Linked DNA regions of Homo sapiens. The protein of the gene in region 1 interacts with the protein of each later gene in a biochemical or structural test. Each region holds a gene or a part of one and is shown on either strand. Other genes may lie near its edges.

What was found.
Region 2: the proteins of PPFIA4 (region 1) and ERC2 form a complex in vitro, tested with the Homo sapiens proteins (one study listed by BioGRID).

The regions. Positions count from the first base shown.
Region 1 is NC_000001.11:203,040,590-203,052,049, reverse strand, and holds part of PPFIA4 (liprin-alpha-4), read right to left. Parts: intron 8,654-11,460; coding exon 8,552-8,653; intron 8,120-8,551; coding exon 7,955-8,119; intron 7,672-7,954; coding exon 7,597-7,671; intron 7,355-7,596; coding exon 7,265-7,354; intron 6,683-7,264; coding exon 6,491-6,682; intron 6,210-6,490; coding exon 6,063-6,209; intron 5,803-6,062; coding exon 5,668-5,802; intron 3,824-5,667; coding exon 3,740-3,823; intron 3,468-3,739; coding exon 3,336-3,467; intron 3,133-3,335; coding exon 3,070-3,132; intron 2,375-3,069; coding exon 2,283-2,374; intron 282-2,282; coding exon 173-281; intron 1-172. UniProt on the Homo sapiens protein: May regulate the disassembly of focal adhesions. May localize receptor-like tyrosine phosphatases type 2A at specific sites on the plasma membrane, possibly regulating their interaction with the extracellular environment and their association with substrates.
Region 2 is NC_000003.12:56,428,203-56,439,662, reverse strand, and holds part of ERC2 (ERC protein 2), read left to right. Parts: intron 1-3,370; exon of another isoform or gene 3,371-3,506; intron 3,507-3,611; exon of another isoform or gene 3,612-3,693; intron 3,694-4,515; 5' UTR 4,516-4,655; coding exon 4,656-5,312; intron 5,313-11,460. UniProt on the Homo sapiens protein: Thought to be involved in the organization of the cytomatrix at the nerve terminals active zone (CAZ) which regulates neurotransmitter release. Seems to act together with BSN. May recruit liprin-alpha proteins to the CAZ.

The DNA.
Region 1 (11,460 bases):
GGGGCACAGCTGTTGCAGCTGACGATGGCCTCAACCCCAGGGCTGCAGCTGTCATTGACACGGGAGGGAAGGGGAAGGATTTGCCCCACACACCAGCCGTCTGCGTAACTGGAGCCAGGCACGCGGCCGAATTGACCCCAAACTCCCTGAGGAGATCCCTCCACCCCCTCACCTTGGCAGACTCTTCCCTCAATGCCGAGTAGCGGCGATGCACGCCTGGGGGTGCGTGTGTGGTTGTGCCCAGGGAGAACCGCACGTCTGCTGCACTGCCCATGTGCGACCTTGAGCGGTGATGGGGGAGAGAAAAGACAGGCCCTGAGGACTGAGACCCCCAGCTCACACCCAGTGGGCCCAAAGAGTCAAGGGATCTTCAGCTCAGAGAAGAGACATCTTAGCAGGACACAGAGCTGTCACAAATGTCTGAAGGGCTGCCGTGTAAGCAAGAGAGCAGACGTATGCCCTGGTGCTCCAGGGGTCAGAATGAGCCAGGGGAGAAAGTTCCAGAGAGCGGTTTTCCGTCTGGCATAAGAAGGATCTTCTAATGGCAAGAGTTGGCTTACGATGCAACTGGTGGCTTTTAAAAAGTTGAGCTCCCCATCAAAGAGGTATTCGAGCAGAGGCTCTCCGGCCATCTGACACACGTGGCGCAGGAGGGCTCCAGGCACTGGGAGATGTTGGAAGGGATGATGTCTAGAGGCCCTTTTCACTCTGAGGGTCTTTGTTTTTTGGTCTTCTACCCAGCACTTTTCCTCGGGTCTCCCCATAATCTGGACTGAGTCCCTGGTTAAAATTCAAGCCAGGCATACCCCTATGCCTAGGAAGCTTTAGGAGGCCCTAACACTGTCAGAAACACAAGCCAGAGAAAATACTTTGCCCCAAGAGTCTATTCCAACCCTGAGATTTTAGGACCCAAGCAACAATCCCCTGGAATATCTGGAAGCCTCCCCTAGTGATACTTCCTCCCTGTGCCTTCCTACTTGGAACCCTTGAGGGAGTCCAGAGTGAAGGGACACAGTGAGCCTACAACAGACCATACGAGGTCACTGGAGGGAGAGGGAAGTTCCTGCATGTTCCCCTTTTCTCCCTGCAACTCAGCCCCAATTCCACGATGAATCCAATGATTCTATAGTCGAACCCAAGCATTCCCAACCATTAAGAAAAAAAAAAAAAGCCAAGCAGTGGCAAATGGCTTGGTGTACTGTGGGCCGTATTTTACTAATTGAGGGGTTGTCTCTTCTGGTCAGGATGGGAGAAGTAGGAGAAATGCCAACTACTGTTGCCTGTCTCCATCCTCTGCTTCCCTTCATACCCATATACAATAATTCCTGGCGAGCGTGGAGATGGCACTTAAGTCTCTACCACCCCAGACACCCGTGGGCTTCTCTTCTTCAAGCTCAACATCCCCTTCCCTATTTCAACCACTGCCCCTCCACACATATCTATATGGATATTTCCATTAACCTTTCTTCATGGTAGTTCATCTCCATTTCCCTGATACAGCAAGCACATGACCAAAGGGAACGGCAAGGGTTCTGATCTAAGAGACTTTGGTTTGGAGAGAAAACAGCCAAGAGCCATGAACCTTGAGTGGCACCATCCATTTCAGTCTCCCCTGTCTTCACCCCACCTCTCTGGCCTGGGTACTGAGGACAGGCTCGAGGTCTGAATTCAATACCCATCGCTCCACAAAATGTGGGGGAAATCCCGAGGTTCCCTAAACATGGGCCTAATTCAAGCATTAGGAGATAAGCTCCATCTCTCACAATGGTTTCAAGAAAAGGGATGCCAAGTCCATAGGATTGCCATGGCGTCTCAACTTCCAGTAAGGAAGTTTCTGATGCTTCATTCCAATCTCTCCTGCTGCCTTTCTGCCCGCTGCCTGAACTCAGGTGGTCCTTGACTCTCAAGAGAACTGGAGTGAATGGCTCTCCCTACCAGTGGGCCCTGTAGGACATGGCTAAGCAAGGGATGTGCAGGCCTCTCTCAGGGGTGTGCCCTCTGTCAAGGAAGCAGAAATCATGGCCTATGTCCTACCACAGCGGGGACAGAGCACTGGCTGTCTGATGACTCGCCTCTCAGCAGCCCTCGGAGGACAGGTGTTCCCTCCCAAACTGCCCAAGTAAGCTGGGTGACTCTGACCAAGTTATCTGAGCCTCAGTGTCCCACCCTGAACAGGAGGAGGACCCTGAGGTCCTGGGCAGTCTTTTGTTGGAAGGAAGTCTCCTTCCTCACGGTCCATCAGGACCCCGTCCTGGCATGCCCAGCCTCTGGCGCTGCAGTACCTGGAGTGGACGCCATCCACAAACGGCCCCCCTCGGCCCTTCAGCTGGTCCACCTCTTGGCGCAGCTTCTCAATCTCTTCAGACAGGCGGCCCTGTGCCAGCAGACCCGGGGTGGGGGCGGGAGTGGGGGCCAGGGAGGGGCAGAGAGGGAGGGTGGGAGTCAGAGAGGGACAAAGAGGACAGCAGAGTTGGGGAGAAGCTGAAGAATGTACTGCAAAGTCCAAAGCCAGGGGCCCCAGGCCAGGCCCACAGATGACACCAAAAGAGAAGAGGTCCAACCAGAGAGTGAGTGGAAGGATGGGCAGGGGCAGGGCCAGGAGGGGGTCTGTCTGGGGAGGGCTCTGCTAGCCTAGGCCTGCCGACCCCTCACTACTGCACAGATGCACAGCAGATGAGGCTGGGCAGCAGAGGGCCCCAGCACCCCCTCAGACCTCACAGACATTGCCGAGGCCAGGACGGAGGCAAATCCTCCCAGAATCACCAGGCTCTGGCTGCACCAGGGTTTGAAGCTCCCTCCAAATCCTGGGGTGGAGCCCCTCACTGGGCCCTGCCTCTCTGCTGTCCACCTCTGCCCTATGCTTCTGGCCTCAGTTTCTTCTTTCCCTGTGGGCAGTAATGCACCTACCATGATGGGCTCTAGTGAGAAATCACGGAATAATGTATGTAGTGCACTAACATATGCACTAACACTGCCAGGTATCAGAGCAGCAGCGTTAAAAGCAGGGTGTCCTTTCCTCCCTGCAACCCGGCCCTCCCAGGCTGGGCGGGGCTGGCCGCAGCCGGGTACCTTGTGGTGGTGCTGCTCCTCAATCTGCCGCTGGGAGCTCTCCAACTCCTGGATCAACGTGTTCTGGGGGAGAGCAGCTGTGAGCCAGGCCCCTGCCTTCCTCTCCCATTCCAGACCTGAGCCTCTGGGTGTGCAGTCTCAGCCCCACCTCTCCAGGCTGGCCACCCACCCCATTGAGACCCCGCCTGCGCCCATCACAGTCCCGCCTCCCCCCGCCCCACACCCAGCACTAACCTCTCGCATCCCAACCCCGCCCCTCTGGGCACCTTCTCCTCCAGGGCAGCCATGCGCTCCTTCAGGTGGAGCTGCAGACGCTCGTTGGACTCGCTGAGCAGCCGGTCCACTGTGTCCGACAGCCGCTTGTTGTGGTCCTCATTCATCTTTTCCCGCTGGCGCACCTGCACAGCCGTCTGCCTCGCACCAGGCCGCCCTCCCAGGGAGGACCACCCTCTCCTGCTGGGGTTTGACTCCCTCCCCTGTCCTCTTCTCATCCTCTGGGAGCCACTCTCTCCAGTCTCCTGACCACCTCCCCCTTCACCTGCCAGCCTCCTCCCACTCTCTGTGGCTGTGTCCCTGGCCAGGCCCTTCCTCCGTGCCCCTTCCACAGACCGCCCTGGGAGCCTGTCCTGCGGGAAGGAGGGGGCCTGAGGGCCCGGCCTGGTGCCCTCACCCGTGCCAGCTCCTGGTTCTTCTCCTCCAGCTGTCCCTCCAGCTGCCGCAGGTGCTCCTCAATGTTGCCATGCCGTTCTTCAGCCTAGGGGCAGGGATGGGTCGGTGCAGCCCGCAGATCTCTGTTCTTCCTGCTCAGGCCCCGCATCCCCTGCACCCTGGTGCCAGGGTGGCCCTGGGGATCATGGCCCCCAGTACCAGTGACGCTCAGCCTCCACTTATCATCTTGGAGCAGGACCACCATCCCCATTGCCTTTCTTCCCAGGTACTTCAATACCTGCCAGGTCTCCCCTGCCTCCTCCTCGCTCAGGCCTAGCCTTAAAACATCCTGAAGCTAGCAGTTCAAGAGACTGTAAATAATCCCCATGCTTCCAGAAAAAGCTCCACTTGAAAGCATGAGCTACCATAAACCTCTACGCCTCCAGATGGATAGAACCACACTGAAGAGCATGGGCTCATGCCACACCGCCTGGGTTCAAATCCTGGCTCCCTCTTACCACCTGTGTGACCTTAGACAAGTTACCAAACCTCTATGTGCCTTCGTTTCCACAACTGTAAAATGTGGGTAATAATAGCACCCAGGCCCACTGGACCATCACAAAGACTAAATGAAATAATCCAAGGCGAACACTGAGAACATAGTAAGCACTCAACAAATGTTAGCCCCGCATGGTTACGGCTCTGCTGTTAAACCAGCCCAGGTGGGGTAGTCTCCCTTTCCAGTCATGGATGTCCAGAGATGGAGACCCTACTGTCTCTGCTGGCAAGATATTCTAGAAAGCCACATCTCTTATAGTCAGGAAATCCTTCCTTAAACTCCTCCTGCGATGACTCACTTGACTGTATTAATCATTTCAGCCCGTGCCTTCATGTCAGCTTTGGGAGACACTAAGGCTGACTGCTCAGCAGCCCACACATAACATCCTCTGCTGTGATTTCAACCCAATCCTTCATTCCTCGAGGCTGGAAAGACCTCCGAGACCATCCCGTCTAACTCCAACATAGTGATAAGGACACTGAGGCCCAGTTAAGGGAGGGGATGACTTTTCCCAGGTCGCAGAGACAGTCAGTGGCAGAAGCAGTCTTGGTCCTGGGTCTGCTGGGACACAGCCAGGCTGCAGGTTCCGTCCTCGAAGCAGCTGAGCTGCACACTGGCCGGCCAGCCTCTCCCTTCCGAGCACTGTGCCTGGTGCTTCCTAAACACCGGTTTTCTTCTCGCCACGGGTTCGAAGATCCCATATGAGGCTGACCAGCTGAAAACGCTCCTAAATTATTTTGATTAACCCCTGCATGTCTAAATCCAGGCATTTACCTGGCTCTTCCAGAACCTATTATGTTTTCAGCCAGCACACCTCTCAGGAATTACTACTTCATAAAGTATCCATTAAATAAAATTGTATTCTTTTTTCTTCATCCTAAAACTGCAGCCTTCAAACAACCAGGAGCAGTCCCTAGATCTAGAAGCTTCAATTTGGCAATCAAAGATGTACTCAACCTAACTCTCACCCCTTTGCCCTTCAGGGATATATATACCATTTCTCTTCTAAGGTTTCACCTTTCCAGAGATGAAAGTCCTAATCTTTCTGCTCCAGCCCCAAGTGAAAGAAAGTGTTCACCACGACGGTGTAGAGGATTAAAAAAAAAAAAAAAGAAAAAGAAAAACACTTTGCATCAACATAGCTTCTTCTCCTTCAAGTACTTTTACACCCCTTCTTATGAGACTGTCACATCCCTGCAGGGTGATGAGGACAGGGATTACTCTTCCAACTGACAGGCACAAGGCAGTGTGCTCCCTGGAATCACACGGCGGGAAGCAGTTTTCTGGCTCCTGGCCCAGTGCGCCTCCCACGCGCTCCCTTCCCTGCCTGGCTCCCTGAGAGCTCAGAACATGGGGGACAGAGGCAGATCCCAGGCCCCTGGCCCACTTGCCTTGGTGAGGGCTGCAATTCTCTGGGCCAGCTCAGCCTCCACCTCTGGCAGCGTCTCTGCCTTGCGCATCGTCTGCTGCAGCTTCTGCTCTGCCACCTCCAGCAGCTCCTGCAGGTGTCGGGCCTTCTCCTCACACTAGCAATGTGGGGGTGGTGAAGTGATTCAAAAGGGAGCACTGAAGCCCCCACCCCCACCCCAGCCTCAGCAGAGAGCAGATGACAGGTCAGAAGCAGCAAGGGACAATCTTGGTTGTTGGCTGCCCGAGACGCCTGACTTCCCCTTTCAAAGGGTGACCTGCAGGACCCCAGGGGCTCCTCAGCCATCACCAGTAGGTTCACGAGGACACCTCCAGGGCTAAGTACAATGCCCATCCCCACCCCACCCTGAGGAGGTACCTGGCGGTGCAGGGACTCCTTGTTGGCCAGCTCATTCTCCAGCTTGTCATTGAGGTCATGGATGGATGTTGCCTCACGCTGAGCAGCCAGGTAGCGCTTCTCCAGTGTAGTAATCCGCTCTTCCATGTCCTCCTTCTGGGCCAGAGCCTGGGAGAAGAGGGGACAAGAAGGACGGTAACCAGCCTTTCCTTGCCCCCATCCTGTCTACACCTCCCCACCCACACCTGGCTGATTGGAACCCATTAAGGGGCATGAGCTACACTCTCCTGTCAGTTTCTGGCTTTGGCCCACCCCTTCCATGACCGCCCCCCAACAATGGAGCCAGGCAAGGAGGCAGGTGTTCAGTCTCACGCCCCAGAGCCTTTGCCTGGCTCTCCCTCCACACGCTCCACAATGAGGTCACAGAGCAGGCCTGCGCCCTCACGCACCTCCCGGAGGTCCCGCTGATGCTTGCTGCTCAGCTCCTCCGACTTGATGAGGTCCCGGCGGGCCGTGCCCAGGTCCTCCTCGAGTTCAGTCACGGTTGTTGTTAGGGTGACCAGTCGCTCCCGGGCCTGGCTCAACTCAAAGTTCTGCTTCTCCAGGAGCTCCTGCAGCTCCTCTACCCGGCCCGTATCCTCCTCCAGGGATAGGGACAGTAGCTCTGTGAGTCACAGCAGCATCCCACCCACCCCACTCCCCTATCCCAGGGGTGGAAGGAGGAACAGCACACCCAGAGCAGGTCAAGGCTCTGCCCCCAACATCACAGCACTCCTCTGGCTACAACTGCCTCCCTCTGGGCCCCAGGAGGTCACTCCTGACAATGACCAAACACCTTGCTATCCTTTGTCTCTCTTGAAAACAAGTTTCTAGTTTTATCTGCTATGCCAGCCTCTTGTAACCCAGAAAGGGGCGTGACTGGGGGAACAAAGGTTCAGACAGAGAAGGAATCTTGCCTGATGCTGCCACATGAGGCAGATGGTGCCTAACAATTCAAGCAGACAAGCGTATGATGTGCCCAGCATGTGTTGGGCACTAAAATAAAAATCTACAGATTTCATTGCAGATGGGGTAGGGAGAAGAAGAAAAGAGAAGGGGGAATATCAGAGAAAGCCTCAAATTTAATTCAAGCAGTTAGTCTACTGAACTAAGGCAGAGCCGGGCCTCCAACCTCCCACCTTGGGGAACACATGACCCCTGCTACACAGCTCTCCATGACCTACCTTCCACAGGCGTTTCGGCCCCAGCTCCACAGTCCCCTCCTCTTCTGCCGCTCCATCCCGCACCCCTGCCCCCTGCTGCAGGGCAGACACCTGTAGGGCACAAGCCCCAGGGCAATGAGTCAAAGAGAAGAGAACCTCCCATACATTCCAGACCCTTCCAAAGCCCCTGTCTTAGTTAAAAAATGTCTCCTAGAAAGAGGTGCTCAGCCTAGCCTTGCCTAGCAGCTTCCAGCCATGGCAGGGAGAAATCTGACAAGAAACAGAGTAGGGCACAGGGGTGAACCAGCCTGGACTTCCAGGAGCTGCAGACTGAGGGTGAGCAGGCAGATTACCTGCTGGTGGGCACCTGCCAGCTGCTCCTCCAAGGTGGTGACTCGCTCCAGCGCTGCCCGGAGCCGCTCTCGCACCTGCTCGAGGTAAGGGGAGATGGAGGAAGAAAGGGGGACCCCACTTGAGTCAGGCTGGAAGAGACTGGGCTTGGTCTACCACCACTGAGCATGAGGACAGTGAAGGGCCTACTAAGCAGCACATTTGCAGGAGGGAGCCTAACAGGAGGACCTTGAAGTTAAGACAATGTTTGGAGGGAGCCAGTGCTCCCTAAATACCGGATGTGGAAATCTCAGAGAAGGGATACATGGGAGGCTCCAGGGCAGCCTGGCTGGATGTGGGGGCTGGCGGGCAGGTGGGCACCTTCTCATCCAGGGCCTTGTGGTGCTCAAACAGTGACTTGAGGGCCTTCAGCACCTCCACCTCACTGGAGACCCCCGAAGGTGACTGGGCCTGGCGCTTCACCACAGTCATCCGCAGTGACCGTTCATGGCGGGACACCAGGCACTCCAGATGTTCCAGAAGCAGCTGGCAGGGAGAGCAGGGGAGGGTGAGAGGGAGGGCTGTAAGCATGTGCCCCAGGGGCTACAAGCAGGGTCCATGTGATCCCCGAGCAGACATGAGTTACAGCCACCCCACTGTGAAAACACTGAAATACTTCCAAATGGGCACAGAGCTCCCGCCCCAACTGATACTACTCAAGGTGACTGCCCCGGCCTCTCCCCAGGACCCTGAGCTTTCTGTGAACCAGCAACTACAGGTGGAGAGCCCAGCACTGGTGGTTAAACGATGTAACTCTCACCCCAGGATGGGAGACAGGAAGAGGGAAGGATGGGGCTTGAGCTAGGACTGTGCCTGGCCCCACTCTTGCCTGCTCTCTTGGTCAAGGTGTTCACAACACACCCCCATACACACACACACACACGTGCGCGCGCGCGACACAAGGTCATCCCCACTTACCCGTGTGTTATTCCGTTCTGCTTTCAGTTCTGATATCTCTTCCTCCCGCTCTAGAAGCTGCTCCCGACACATGCTCAGCTCCCGGGTTAAGGTGGCAAATTCCTGAAAACCCCCAAGGCCCCTCAGTGCTTCAGGATTCACCCCCAAAGCAGTGTCCTGCACATGCAAGTCAGTGGTGGGATCCTCTCACCCATCCCTTACTTCCACCACCTCCCCCACAAAATCCCAATCCATCCACACTGCAGGTCAGTAAACCTGTAGCTAGCATGTGCTTCTCCAGAGGGGTCCACATCTCTGGGTCCTCCATGCATTCCATGTGTTAGAATCCAAGGGAACAGAGTTGTACACAAGAGTGAGAAAGTCACTGAGTCTGCTCTGCAGACCCTTCCCCATCCAGCCACCAATATGACCAGATTACATCCTCCCTCCCACCTGGCATTTCCATTTCTCCAGGAATTCAATGACATTTTCCTTTAGAAACTGATGGAGGGGAATTCTGCTTCTGGTTTGGTGGATTAAGGTCCAAACAGAAACTGATGGATATGAAAGAGGGAAGAGAAGGCCCAGCACAGTGACTCACGCCTGTAATCCCAACACTTTGGGAGGCTGAGCCGGGCAGATCACCTGAGGTCAGGAGTTTGAGACCAGTCTGGCCAACATGGTGAAACCCTGTCTCGACTAAAAATACAAAAATTAGTCAGACGTGGTGGCGCACACCTGGGTAATTCCAGCTACTCCAGAGGCTGAGGCAGGAGAATCACTTGAACCCGGGAGGCGGAGGTTGCAGTGAGCTGAGGTGGCACCACTGCACTCCAGCCTGGGCGACAGGGTGAGCCTCCGTCTCGAAAAATAAAAATAAATAAATAAAAGAAACAGGGAAGAGAAAGAGCTTTTGAAGATAATGCCTGCATGAGTGCCCCAGGGAGCTCTTCCAGCCCCATCCCAAGGCTTTGCAAACTGCAAGTAGCGGGTGAAATAAGCAGATCAAAGGACCTACCTACATAGGAGCAAGAGAGTATGCAGACCTGCCCAGTCAGGCTTTCTAGGAGCCCTGCTCAACCAAGCAAGGGCTACATCCCAGCTCCTGATGCCAAGGCAGTTGCCCTGGCTTTACCAAATATCCATGTACCAAGTATCACTTCTAGAGGGGCCCATTTCCACACTGTCAGGCCCAGATAACTTCAGAGACCTTGCCAGCCCACCCTCCCCCATCAGGACAAGCATACAGGGGTGAGAGACTGCTCCCACATTCCAGGCTCATCATATCCTGTTTAGCTAAACATCACCTCCTTCCAGGGAGGTTTTCAAATGAGTGGCCCCAACTCTGTGGATGTCCAAGGTCTAAGAGCGATGCAACAGGCCTCATCCCTGTCCTAACCTGCAGCCTCCCTCACACACCAAGGATTCATGACCAAAGGAAGAACTCCCAATCCCCTCTCATCACTCCAGATAGGGCAAAAGGGGCTAGAAGGGTTGTGGGAGGGCAGAAGGGACAAGAGATGCCAGAGCATGAGAAACCATGAACCTCTGACATTATTACTCAATTACTGCCTTTCTGTCAGGGCCATGGCCAAAGGTGGTCAAGGTCAAGCATCTCATACTCCAGAAGCCCAGGCCTGATGCTGTCTCACCCCTCAGCTTATGCACAAACACAGTCACACTTTCACAGGCACACACAGTCATGTACACATGCTTGTAACCAGAGACAGGGCTTGACAGCCTGCCACCCAGCCCTACACCATGACACCACCACCAAAAGGCTGGTGCTGCCCCCTCTCCTGGCCTCAAGCTCAGCAGCTGTCTTATCTCCCCCCACCACAGGATACCTGTCCCCTCCCTTCCACCTCTAACCTATCTGACACCCTGCTGTCTACAAATCTCCCAAAGCACAATGCTGTCTACAAACACAGGAGACGGTCTCCTCTGTCACCCAGGCTGGAGTGCAGTGACTCAATTTCAACTCACTGCAGCCTGGACCTCCTGGGCTCAGGCGATCCTCCCACCTCAGCCCCACGAGTAGCTGGCAGCATAGGCATTTGCCACCATGCCCAGCTAATTTTGGGGATTTTTGTAGAGATGAGGTTTTGCCACATTGCCCAGGCTGATCTTGAACTTCTGACCTCAAGCAGTCCATCCACCTCAGCCTCCTGAAGTGCTGGGATTACAGGAGTGAGGCACTGCACCCAGCCTACAAATACAAACTTCTTATCCTGGTTTTCAAACTTCTCTCTCATGTCATTTCCATATCACCTAAGACCCAGTCAACCTGGATCACCTGCTGCTTCTAAACACCAGCATGCCTTCCTAATATCACATCTTGGCTCAGTGGACTCCCTCCCCCTGGAAAAACCTCTGTCACCACCCGATGAAATCATAATCATCCTTCAAAGCCCATCTCAAAGGATACAGCCTTGCTGGGAGCTGTCCAGACTCCCCACGGGGAGGCTCTCTCCCTCTCCTGAAAGCCATTTGGAGGAGTGGTCAAGAACACCAACTTGGGAGTCCATCATTCAACCACAAATATTTGTGAGCACCTATCATGTACCAGGTCCTGTGCAGATCACTGGGGATATAGTGACAAGAAAGACACAACCCCTGACCTCATGAAGCTTCAGTGTGGGAAGTCAAGTAGGCCTGGGATCAAATCTCAGCTCTGCCCCTGTTAGCTGTATGATCTTGAATAAGTTACCTAATCTCTCTGAGCCTCATTCTCTGATCTGTAAGACAGACGTAACAGTCCTCCCTCCAGGTGCTGGTATGAGAGTCAAATGAGCCAATGTATAGAAAGCACTTAGCCCAAGCCCATCAAAAGCAGCTATTTTTATCACTGATACTGTGCTTAATAACCCTTTTGGGCCTCTCTTATCTTCCTCTGCATTCTCTCCGGTCACATGGGTGGTGTATCTCCT
Region 2 (11,460 bases), on another chromosome or scaffold:
AAAAGCTATATCATTTAAAAAATTTTAAAGAAAAGTTATACAAAGCAATGCCAATAAGACTGGAAAATCTACACGGAATAGACTGTTTGTGAAGGGACGTTTTAATGATAATTGACACAAAATAGGTAGCAAACCCAAATAGACAAGTAAACATAGTGAAAAAGTGAAAAGATAATAAACAACTAGGCCCATTCTGTGTTTTTTGCTTTTTTAAAGAGACTGGGTCTCTCCCTCTGTCACCCAGGCTGGAGTGCAGTGGTGCAGTTATAGCTCACTGTAGCCTCGAACTCCTGGGCTCAAGTGATCCTCCTGCTTCACTCTCCCCAAGTAGCTGGGACTGCAGGCACATGACACCACACTGGGCTAATTTAAAAATTTTTTTTAGAGACAGAGTCTTGCTATATTGCCCAGACTGGTCTTGAACTTCTGTCCTCAAGCAATCCTCCTGCCTCAGCCTCCTCAGTAGCTAGCATTACAGCAGGAGTCAACATTCCCTGCCAAGCCCATTCAGTTTTATGTGTGTGTTCTACAAAATATTTCAGGAATAGGGAAGACTGGTATTATGCTAACTGTTCCAGAACATATGAAAAATGGAAAGCTTCTCAATCTATCTATGATACTAGCATACATCTGTTATTAAACCTAGAAAAGGAGAACCCAAGAAATCTATGGGCCAGTGGCAACATATATTACTTTTTAAATAAGGAAACAATATTTCAAACATGATAATACATCTTTTCATGTTGTATGTTATATGTGTGTGTGTTTCCAAAGGGAACAAACTAACTTTGTTTGTTGGTTATTGGGATTCTCCAAAGCCTTGGCCAGGTAGGCAGGTAAATTCACTGAGGATTAAATCTGTGTGCGTGTAAATTTTATGACATTCCGGGACCTCAAGCCTAGCCACAGACCTCAGAAATGTGTATCTCTAGATACAAAGGGAGCAGACAGAGGAAGACAAGTTAGATTTCATCACTTTTTCTAGGAAGACATCTCTATAAGTGGTGGCCCAGTTAGAACCCAGACATCTAGATTGTAAGCACAGAAAAGATACATTCATTTAACTGTTGGAACCATAGAAAGAAAATCATTTTTTTAATGAAAAAAGTATATATCATTATTATGTTACCAAAACACCAGAGGTTCAGTCCAGGTCCTGCTGCTTGCTGCACAGAAGGCCAATCACTGAGACAAGTATTGCCAGAGAAGAAGGTTTTAATCAGGTGCTGCAGCTGAGGAGATGGGAGATCAGTTTCAAATCCATCTCCTTGACCAACTAACGTAAGGGTTTATATAGCAGGGAAGAAATGTAATCATGAGTGGAAAAACAGGAATTAGGGAGGGATAAGGAAGAGGAGTTGGTTAAAAGGAAGCAGATAGGGCAAGGCAATTATGACAGATGAAGGGTCTGACATCTCATTGCCCAAATGCAGTAATCTGGCGAGTTTGAGCTCCTTGACACTATCTGGGAGGCCTGATGGTTGGTTTCCTTAGAAAGGAACTCAGATAAGACAAATGCAACTTTCTCAAGTTTTAAAACTGGGAGGTCAATTTCTATGTTTTTTCAAAGAAACCACTGACATCAGCTCTATGGGACAATTGAGTCAGTTTCAATTGTAGAAAATTTAGAGTATGCAAATAAAAAGAAGAAAATGAAAACCTCTTGGAATTCCACCACTGGTAACACTTTGATGTGTGTCATTCCAGCCTTCTTTGCTGGTGAAAGGGTGTATGTGTATTTGTGTGTTTTACAACAGTGTGAGTAAATCACAAAATTGTTTTGTCGTCTGCTCCCCCTGCCACCAGTATGTCATGAACATCTTTCTGTCTTATTAAATATTCATGTAACTGCCTGTTCCACTATTCCATTATCTGTCTCTCTTATCATTTATGTCACCGAATTCTTATGTTAGAACTATTGATCCCCTCTTTTTTACACTACAGATTATTCATGTAAAAATCTTAGATACAAAATGGTTTTTGTGTATTTCCAAGAAAAACAAAATTAAGCCCTGAGCAACATAAACATTTGAAATGAAGTTCTTTAGTTAGAAACAGGTGTATAATTTTTTAAGACCTCTTGAGGGAAAGGGGAAACCTTTATAGAAAACATTTTTTCATACTGTATGTGTCACTATCTGTGACAGAAATCTCATCTAGAATTGAATGTAGCAAAAAGGAAATTTATAGACAAATGCATCAGTTACCCATTGATCCTGTAATGTGGCAAAACAGTCCACCACAAAACATCAGTGACATACTAAGAAGCATTTATCAAGTGCATAAGTGTGGTGTTTAGCTGATCTCAGCTGGGCTCGCTCATGCCCCGCTGGGCAGTGGCTGGTTGGCTAGGCAGTTCTGCTGACTTTGGCTGGGCTTGCTCACACATCTTGGGGCGGCTTGCCTGTTGGCTAGGACAACTTGGTTCTATTTTATATTTCTCATCTTGCATCAGGCTAGATTGGGAATATTCTAATTACTATGGTAGAGGAAAATGAGCAAGAGAGTAAACACATGTGTTGCTTAAGGCGTCTGCTTACTTCACATTTGTTATCACCTTACTGGACAAATAAAGTCACATGACTGAACCTAGCATCACATTGGGAAAACACTGCCAAGACATATATAAAAAAAGGAGTAAAGGATTGAGACCTTTAATGCAATCAGTCACCTGGCATATGTAACTAAAATGGCCAGGGAACAGATGTATAGATGATAGATGATGGTAACTTCTATGATTCCTGGATCTGGAGTATGAAGTGATGTCACCTGGTTTGGTTTCACACTCTTTGAAGTTTAGCTGTGGTTCCCTTTGTATTGTCTCCACCCTCAGGGAGGCCCTTTCCACATTGAAGTACTCACAGCTCTATCTTGAAAGTAAGGAATTCCAGCTGAAGAAGAGCTTATCTTTCCCAGCTGTTCCAACTAGAGTCCTAGTATGGAGTCTTGTTGGACCAATGTGGGTCACATGCCCATCACTAAACTAGCTACCATGTCTGGAGGATACAATATGGTGGTTGGCCAGGCGTGGGTCATGTTCTCACCCCTTGCACCATCCAGGATGGTGGAGTGAAGGGAGTCAACCTTATCTAAACCCAGTGAACTGTGAGTAGGGGGTTGGGAACAATTTCTCTAAGGAAAATAGTGACAGTATAATCAGAAAGTGTGTATTTGGGAGAGGGGGAAGGGATGAATGATAGGCAGGTGAAAATAAAAGATACCCATGTATACTGCTATTAATGTACTTATCTCATTGAGACACTTACCTTCAAAATCTATTTATTGACTATTTGGTACTAGGCACAAAACTAGGTGTTTTATAAACCTCATCTTACTATTTCTTACAATACTATGAGTTAGATGGTACTACCTGCATTTTGTTGATTGCAGAGTGGAAGCTCATAACAAGTTAAATAATTTGTCTAAGGTTACTCAGCTGGTTAGTATTAGCATGGACATTTGAACCTGTTTGCCTTTCTCAAATCTGTTCTTTTATTGTTGTAAAGCTGAAGGAAAAGAAAATACAGTAAAGACTTTCTAAGAGGAAGAACAGGAGGCCATAATGTGCCCCATTAAGGCCATATGGGTGCTAAAATTGAAGGGATACTCACAATGCTGTAGCCCCAGCTACATAAAATCTTCACTAGTATACTTCAGTAACCGTGATGGGAACTTCTTCTCCTTTGCCATTTCTGTACAGACATGAAGTGGTTAATATGAATATTAAGGTCAACCAAAATGGGAAATAATTCTCAAGAGGCCAGCCTGAAAGATGTGTGTGAAAGGGAAAAGAGACAGGACTGTTGTTTTCTCTGGTAATATCATTGAGGATCTGGCTATGTGTTTAGGCATCCCATTGGTTGAGCTACCTCTTTTTCTTCTATCTCCAGGATAGCCAGTAGGTTTGAATTCATGTGTTAATACCAGTTGATTGGTGGTAAGCCATCTAGAGTGTTGTGTTGAGAAGAATTCTGAACCTAGTGGAAAAGAAGACTGTGATGGATTAGTGATGTCTGTAATGAGTACAGGAGGGGAAGGTAACAACATGAATGCCAAATATTTGACATCCCAGGAATCAGCAGCTTCTCAGAGTCACTTTCAAGTCACATGCATATAGGGGTTATGCCCCAAAGGAGGGGCCTTTTTATAGCTAAGGTCTCCATGATGGGCAATTCCATGGGGAATTTTCTAGAGGTTCTAACTCTAACCTTAGCACAAACCAATATAGAGAGCTTCATTTTCTTAAAGAATAGAGCTTATTTTTCACTTTGAGAATTTTTATCTTGCTTAGGGGCAGGGTGGGGGGAATTTGTAAAACTTTCACCTGTAGTAGTAAAGTTCTAGAGTTGCTTTTCTTTATAAATCAACATTATGGGTGTGGCTCTTTCTATCTGTCTATTATTAATCACCTATCTACATAGGTACATCTATCATTATCTTTATATATTTAAAAATACAATGCAGTTAGAGTTCTAAAGAAATTTGTTTTTAATTATTCTTTTTTTCACTTTGTAGATCTCTGAGTGGAGTTATTTTCTGGTACGGACTGTGAAAAGAATGCGGTGAAAATTCTGGACAATCGTGGAAATATTAGCTCAAACCCCAACTTAATATAGCATTTCTTCTCTTCAGTAACACCTCATAATACAAGAAAAATGTATGGAAGTGCAAGAACAATCACCAATCTGGAAGGTAGCCCTTCCAGATCCCCTCGTTTGCCAAGGTCTCCTCGTTTGGGCCACCGAAGAACAAGTAGTGGGGGAGGTGGAGGAACAGGCAAGACTCTGTCTATGGAGAATATCCAGTCCCTCAATGCAGCCTATGCTACGTCTGGACCCATGTATCTGAGTGATCATGAAGGGGTGGCTTCAACAACCTACCCAAAGGGCACTATGACTCTGGGAAGGGCTACAAATCGAGCTGTATATGGAGGCCGTGTCACAGCCATGGGGAGTAGTCCCAATATTGCTTCTGCTGGACTTTCCCACACAGATGTCCTTTCATACACAGATCAACATGGTGGGCTGACTGGCTCATCCCATCATCACCACCACCAGGTCCCCTCCATGTTGAGGCAGGTAAGAGACAGCACAATGTTAGATCTTCAGGCCCAGCTGAAAGAACTGCAGAGAGAGAATGACCTCCTCCGGAAAGAGCTAGACATCAAGGACAGCAAATTGGGATCTTCCATGAACAGTATTAAGACTTTCTGGAGTCCTGAGCTTAAGAAGGAGAGAGTCTTGAGGAAAGAAGAGGCAGCGCGGATGTCTGTCCTCAAGGAGCAGATGAGGGTTTCCCATGAAGAAAATCAGGTAGGTCATGACTCATCTCAGTATTTTTCAGCCTTGGCTTCTCACTGAGTAGTTGATGCTTTGCAGATGGTACCACGACCTGTGCAGAAGAAAGTTTGGCATCATCAAGAAGGTTATGGCTTAGTATGTGTTTGACTTAGACACTATGAGAGAGCATAGGAAATATACCATTACAGCTTGTAATTTCCTTATTTTCCGATAACCTTTTCACATGGTTGCAGATGGGGAGAGGGGTGGGGTGGGGAGGATCACTTGTCATTGCCTAACTTTTGTACTTGGTTAATTTTGTTTTCTTTTTCAGCAGTTGCAACAGCTGTTCAGATGTACCTCCTTCTGAATAGAAGAAGAAAATGTTAATTTCTGTAAGAATAAAGACTTTAAGAGCAACATTTAGTGGGCCACATTTGACTGGTGAATTGATTTTTATTTTGAAGCACCAGCACCATTATTTCCCACTAGAATGAGTGAAGTTGTTCTCTAAGTAGCAGATTGAACAATATGAAATGGAATTGGATCAAATGGGTTTGTTATGTTAGAGATACACAATAAATTTTTAACTTGGTGTTTTTGCCTTCATCCATTCAGCATTAATTAACTATCTACTATATGTAAGTCACCTTCATACTCTTCTTTGATCCATCCTTCATGCCACAGGAAAAACAGGTTCCTGGTGTCTACCTGCAGTTATGCTATTTTCCTGCTTTAAAGCCCTCAGTGATTACTCATTGCCTCCAGAATAAAGTCTACCTTCTTGACTGAGCCCATAGCACTTCTACTAGAAGGCCTGGGCCAACATTTCCAGCCTTATCTTGTGCTGCCTCCCTCCACATCTGTGCTTTCTGTACCACTGCCTGGTAATTCCTGCACACACCCAAGGTTTTGCACTGCCATGCCCTTGCTCTTGCTGCTCCCTTCCACTGGTGGCCTTCTCAGCACCTGCTTTTCCTGCCACCTCCCTTTAAATCTCAGCCAGTCTTCATTTCCAAATCCCACCTATTCTGTGAGGCCTGTTTTATATGCTGCTATTTTCTTTTCTTTTCTTTTTTAATGCCTACTTTATTTCCTAAAATGCTGCTATTTTTATAAGCGCTTTGGAATCAGACATACCTGGGTTTAAATTCCAGCTTCATCTCTTGCTCTCTCTCTCTCTCTCTCTCTTTTTTTTTTTTTTTAAGAGACAGGGTCTTGCTGTTGCTCAGGCTGGAGTGTAGTGACGTTGATCATAGCTCACTGCAGCCTTGACTTCCCGGCTCAAATGATCCTCCACACCTCAGCTTTCTGAGTAGCTGGGACTACGGGCACATATCACCACAGCCTGCCGATTAAAATTATTTTTTTTTGTAGAGACAAGGTCTTGCTATTTTGCCAAGGCCGGTCTTGAACTCCTGGCTTCAAGGAGTAATTCCAAAGTTCTAGGATTGCACACCTGGCCCCAGCTTCATCTCTAATTGGTGCTTATAGAAGTGCTAAGAGCTGGGGCATAGGGAATGTGATACCACGTGGCTCAAAAATTCCCAGATATTATTTAACTTTCTGAAGGAAATTGAGATAACTCTAAGTTGACTGAACAAGTGATTTTCCAATAACTGGCTTTGATGTTGGTCTAACGAAGTGCTCTGCCTTTCTTGGAGTCACCTGCTGACCCTCCTAACTGTTTCCCTGGCTACCACTCCTTTGGAGTTTAAGCGCCTGTAGAAGCATTTGTGATCTATAGGAAAATCTGCCTTTTGTTTTCATTCTATGTGTAGAAAACAATCACCTTATCCTTTTGATTATCTAACAGAGCCAAAGCTAGTTTTCAGACGTAGAAATGTGATTTTGTAGTTGGAACCGAAAGGTTTGTTCTTCACTCTAAAATGATGCTCTTCGGTATCATTTCTGCTTCTTTCTGATTTTGCTGGTTCATGAAGTCTTTATGAACCTGTTTGTACAATGCACATTTCCCCCCAGTTTTATACTGGTTTTCTCTTCATTTTAATTTTTTGGAAAATGGTTAAAGCAGTTTAGGAATGGTGCAAGCAGGGACAAAAAGTTTGAAAGCTCTTCTTTAAACTGTTAGCTCCAAAGTGACTTATCTCATGCTTCTTTCATTAAGTTTATCTTTGAGCACAGACCCCAATTATACATGTATATTTATTTATAAATTACAGGATGCATTACACTGCCAGTGTATTATGTGTCTTTTATGACATCCACGAAGAATTAAATGTGGATGAGATAGAGCAAAATAATACATTGAGATACATTTTAGTGACATATAAAACCTTTTCCACTTTTATTAAAAACATTTCGAACCATTTGTCCATTTCATGAGGGTTAGTTCAGTTTAGAATAGGTGATATCCATAATTCCACTTAACCGTCTCAGGTTGCCATAAGCCAGGAGTGTGTGAATGCTTGAGGGCACTTCCATTATCCCTTCCTTGTTCTGGTCTTACTGTGATCACAGGATACCTTGGTATCATAGGTGAAATGTGACTGTGTGACATATGACTCAGTGAAAGCTCTAGTATTAATCTGTATATTTAATACAAGTAAAATGCAATTTTCTCTTTTAGATTAAAAAGTGTAAAATGAGGAAGAAGCGCAGAGATTTTGAAAAGTCAATTTACTTGCAATATGATGTCTTACAAAGTAAAAAATATAAAGATTGACAAAAAACAAGCTATTAAAAAAACTGTCTTCTCTTTTTGGAAGTATATTAGGATCCCTTTTAGAAGTATAGGAGTACCTGTTGGTCAGGATAGGGTAAGTTTTGCTGCAGTAACTAACAAACTTCAAATCTCAGTGGATTAACATATTTGAGATTTATTTCTAATTTGCTTAAAGTAAGAAGCAGGTCAGGTGACTCTGTGGGACGGGTCTTTTCCATGCAGTGACTCAGGATCCAGGATTTCTGCATCCTGATGCATGGCTTCAAACGTTGCCACAGCAGGGGAGGAGAGTGACTGGAGATGGCACATTGGTTCTTTAATTCCTTGAACTGAAAGTGACATAATTGAAGGGAGTGTGAGGTGGAGTCCTCTCTTCTGTCCAGGAAAGGGAGGAGAGACACATATATGGTGGATTACTACCAGTGGGGTTTTTATGTTTTTCCAAAAATGGAGCTAGGTGAAATAAAGTTTGGGGAGCAATCTTCTGCTATTGCTGTTGTTTCTATTATACTGCTAGTGCTACCAGTAGACATTTGTTGAGGGCCAACTGTGTGCTAGGCATTGTGCTTAGTGCTTTGTGTACATTATCTTATTTAGTGATTTCATCAGTCATCTGAGGTAGGTGCTAGAACTTTTCTTATTTTACAGATGAAGCATAAATGTAGAGAGAATAAGCAACTTATCCAAGTTCACACAGTTGGTAAGCAGCATAGCTAGGTCTTAAGGCATTGGTCTATTTCATGCCAAAGTCTAAGATCTTAACTTTATGATCACTACCTCCTTAAAAGATCACTGAGCTGTGATTTAGTATTATAGGAAGATCCTACTTCATACATGCTAGATGAAAAAATGACTAGTTTTGATAAGATGATTAAGAATGTGATTTATTATCATTATTGTTATTATTTTGAGACAGGGTTTCACTCTGTCACCTAGGCTGGAGTGCAGTGGTGCGATACTGGCTCACTGCAGCCTTGACCTCCTGGGCTCAATCGCTCCTCCCACCTCAGCCTCCCTAGTAGCTGGGACTACAGGTGTGTGTCACCATGTCTGGCTAATTTTTGTACTTTTTTGTAGAGATGGAGTCTCCCTATATTGCCCAGGCTGGTCTTGAACTCCTAGGCTCAAGTGATCCTCCCACCTCAGCCTCCCAAAGTGCAGTGTTATCTTGGTACTGTCACTTGTGCTTTTGCCTCATGATGTGTTTTCTTAAAATGGAGGACAGTGGGGCAAGGGATTATGGACATCTAACTCTTTGGAGTGGCATGATTACAGGCGTGAGCCACTGTACCTGGCCAGAATTTGTATTCTTAACTAGGAATTTATTTCTTTTTCCTAGAGATGGTTTTTGTGCTGTTTAGGGTTTTCACCATTTACCATAACTTAATTTCCTTTTAAAGGAAAAATCATGGAAACTTTTTCTATATGGAAGAAAGAAATACAAAAGGGATAAGGGACATTTGATTGTGGTTTCTTATCCACAATAATCAGAGATTGCATCTATCAAGGTAATTCTTTCAGGGGTATTTAGATATTTAGAATTTCACTAACCTAAGTTCTAATGATCTAAAACAATTTGAACTGTTCTGTGTGAAGAGAAATTGGAAGCAGGTCCATTACAGGGTAGAGGTAAGGAGATTGAAATGCTCTTGTATAGGAAGTTCATAGTTTTATAAATATAATGCTAACTAACCCAGCCCTTTCCTTCTTATATGCAGCGTTGTCGAGGGCTCCTGCTCATCAGTTTCTTGGCAGTAGATTTTGAAGTCCTCATGGTTCTGTCTAAGGGAGCTGAACCCAACTCCAGATCTAAGGGAGGATGCTGAACTCCCTCTCTGTGTTACAGGGAGTGCAGGACTATTTGGAACCTTGGAGCTAATGAGTAGGTGGCCGTGACCAAATTTCTTATGTGCAAAGGGTTGACACTCAGTTTCTTGGATGGATATGCCACCCCTTCCTCCATTCCCACTTCTCCTCCACCCAGTTCCCTCCAAGGCCCTACTTCTCAGCCACGCGGCTCTACATGAATATAAATACATTTGCTCTACTACTAAGAGTTGCAGCACTGAAATTTAGAATCATGTGCTTGTTTGTATAAACCAGAGTGCACGGATGCAGTGTTATCTTGGTGTATAAACCAGGGTGCACAGATGCAGTGTTATCTTGGTGCTGTCACTTGTGCTTTTGCTTCATGATATATTTTCTTAAATTGGAGGAGAGTGGGGCAAGGGATTATGGACAGCTGATTCTTTGGAATGCCATGAACCCATAGCCCATGCTCTCAATGTCACACCTGTAGAACAGTTGGGGGAGGGATGAGGAGAAAGTATTGAGAAAGGATGTTCTGCTGCCATACTACACTGTTACGCGAGGTAGCCCCTTATTATTTTTAGTGGCCTGTGCTGTTGGGATAGGTGTTATGGGGGGCAGGGCTGATGAGAGGGTGGATACAACTGTTGGGAAGTAAAGTGAACCTATTTTCTCTAAAAGAATATAGGTTTATCTTTTCTTTATATCTTTATTCTATTGTGTTACGGAGATCAAAGAGAGGAAACATAGGAGTGAATACATCTTTTTAAGGTTTATAAAAACTTCTGTGTTGTAGTTTGGTACATAAGAGTTACTGACTTTTCATATTCCTCGGTATTTTGTGCAATTGTTAACGTTGTATTTCTAACGGATTTCTTCCAAATTAGGTACACATAAAGCAATTTTTAGACATTTTCCTAGGTTGTGCATGGCTAGCCAAGGCTCTGCATGAATATAAATAGCACCACACACTCGGAGATTGTACTAGATCTAATATTTACCCATCTTGCGTGTGCAGAAGTGGGACAAGGTCATTGGGAAACGTAACCCAAGAAGTGTAAGTAAACCTGTCTGGGGAATGTTACAGCTTTTAAACAATGGTTATGTGATCATTTCTATTTTTGGCTTAACACATTAGGAAAGAATCTACTCTAAATCAATATTAATATGAGTTTTTGATCCAGTTTCAACATAGGATTTATTGATTCTTATTTTGAACATGAAATTTGAAAAGATCGAGATGGATCACATTTCTGTGTTTCCTTTATTATTACTGCTTTGTTTTATTTGTATAACTGCAAATAATTCTTTTCTCCCCTCCCTCCCTCCCTCCCTTCCTTCCTTCCTTTCTGCCTTCTTTCTTTTTTTGAGACTGAGTCTCACTCTGCTGCCCAGGCTGGAGTGCAGTGGTGTAATCTCGGTTCACTGCAACCTCTACCTCCTGGGTTCAGGGAATCCTCCTGCCTCAGCCTCCCGAGTAGCTGGGACTACAGGTGTGTACCAGCACGCGCGGCTGATTTTTGTATTTTTAGTAGAGATGTGATTTCACCATGTTGGCCAGGCTGGTCATGAACTCCTGACCTCAGGTGATCCGCCCGCCTCAGCCTCCAAAAGTCCTGGGATTACAGGCGTGAGCCACCGCCCCCAGCCTGCAGGGCCATTTCAACAGGGTCATTCAACTATGTT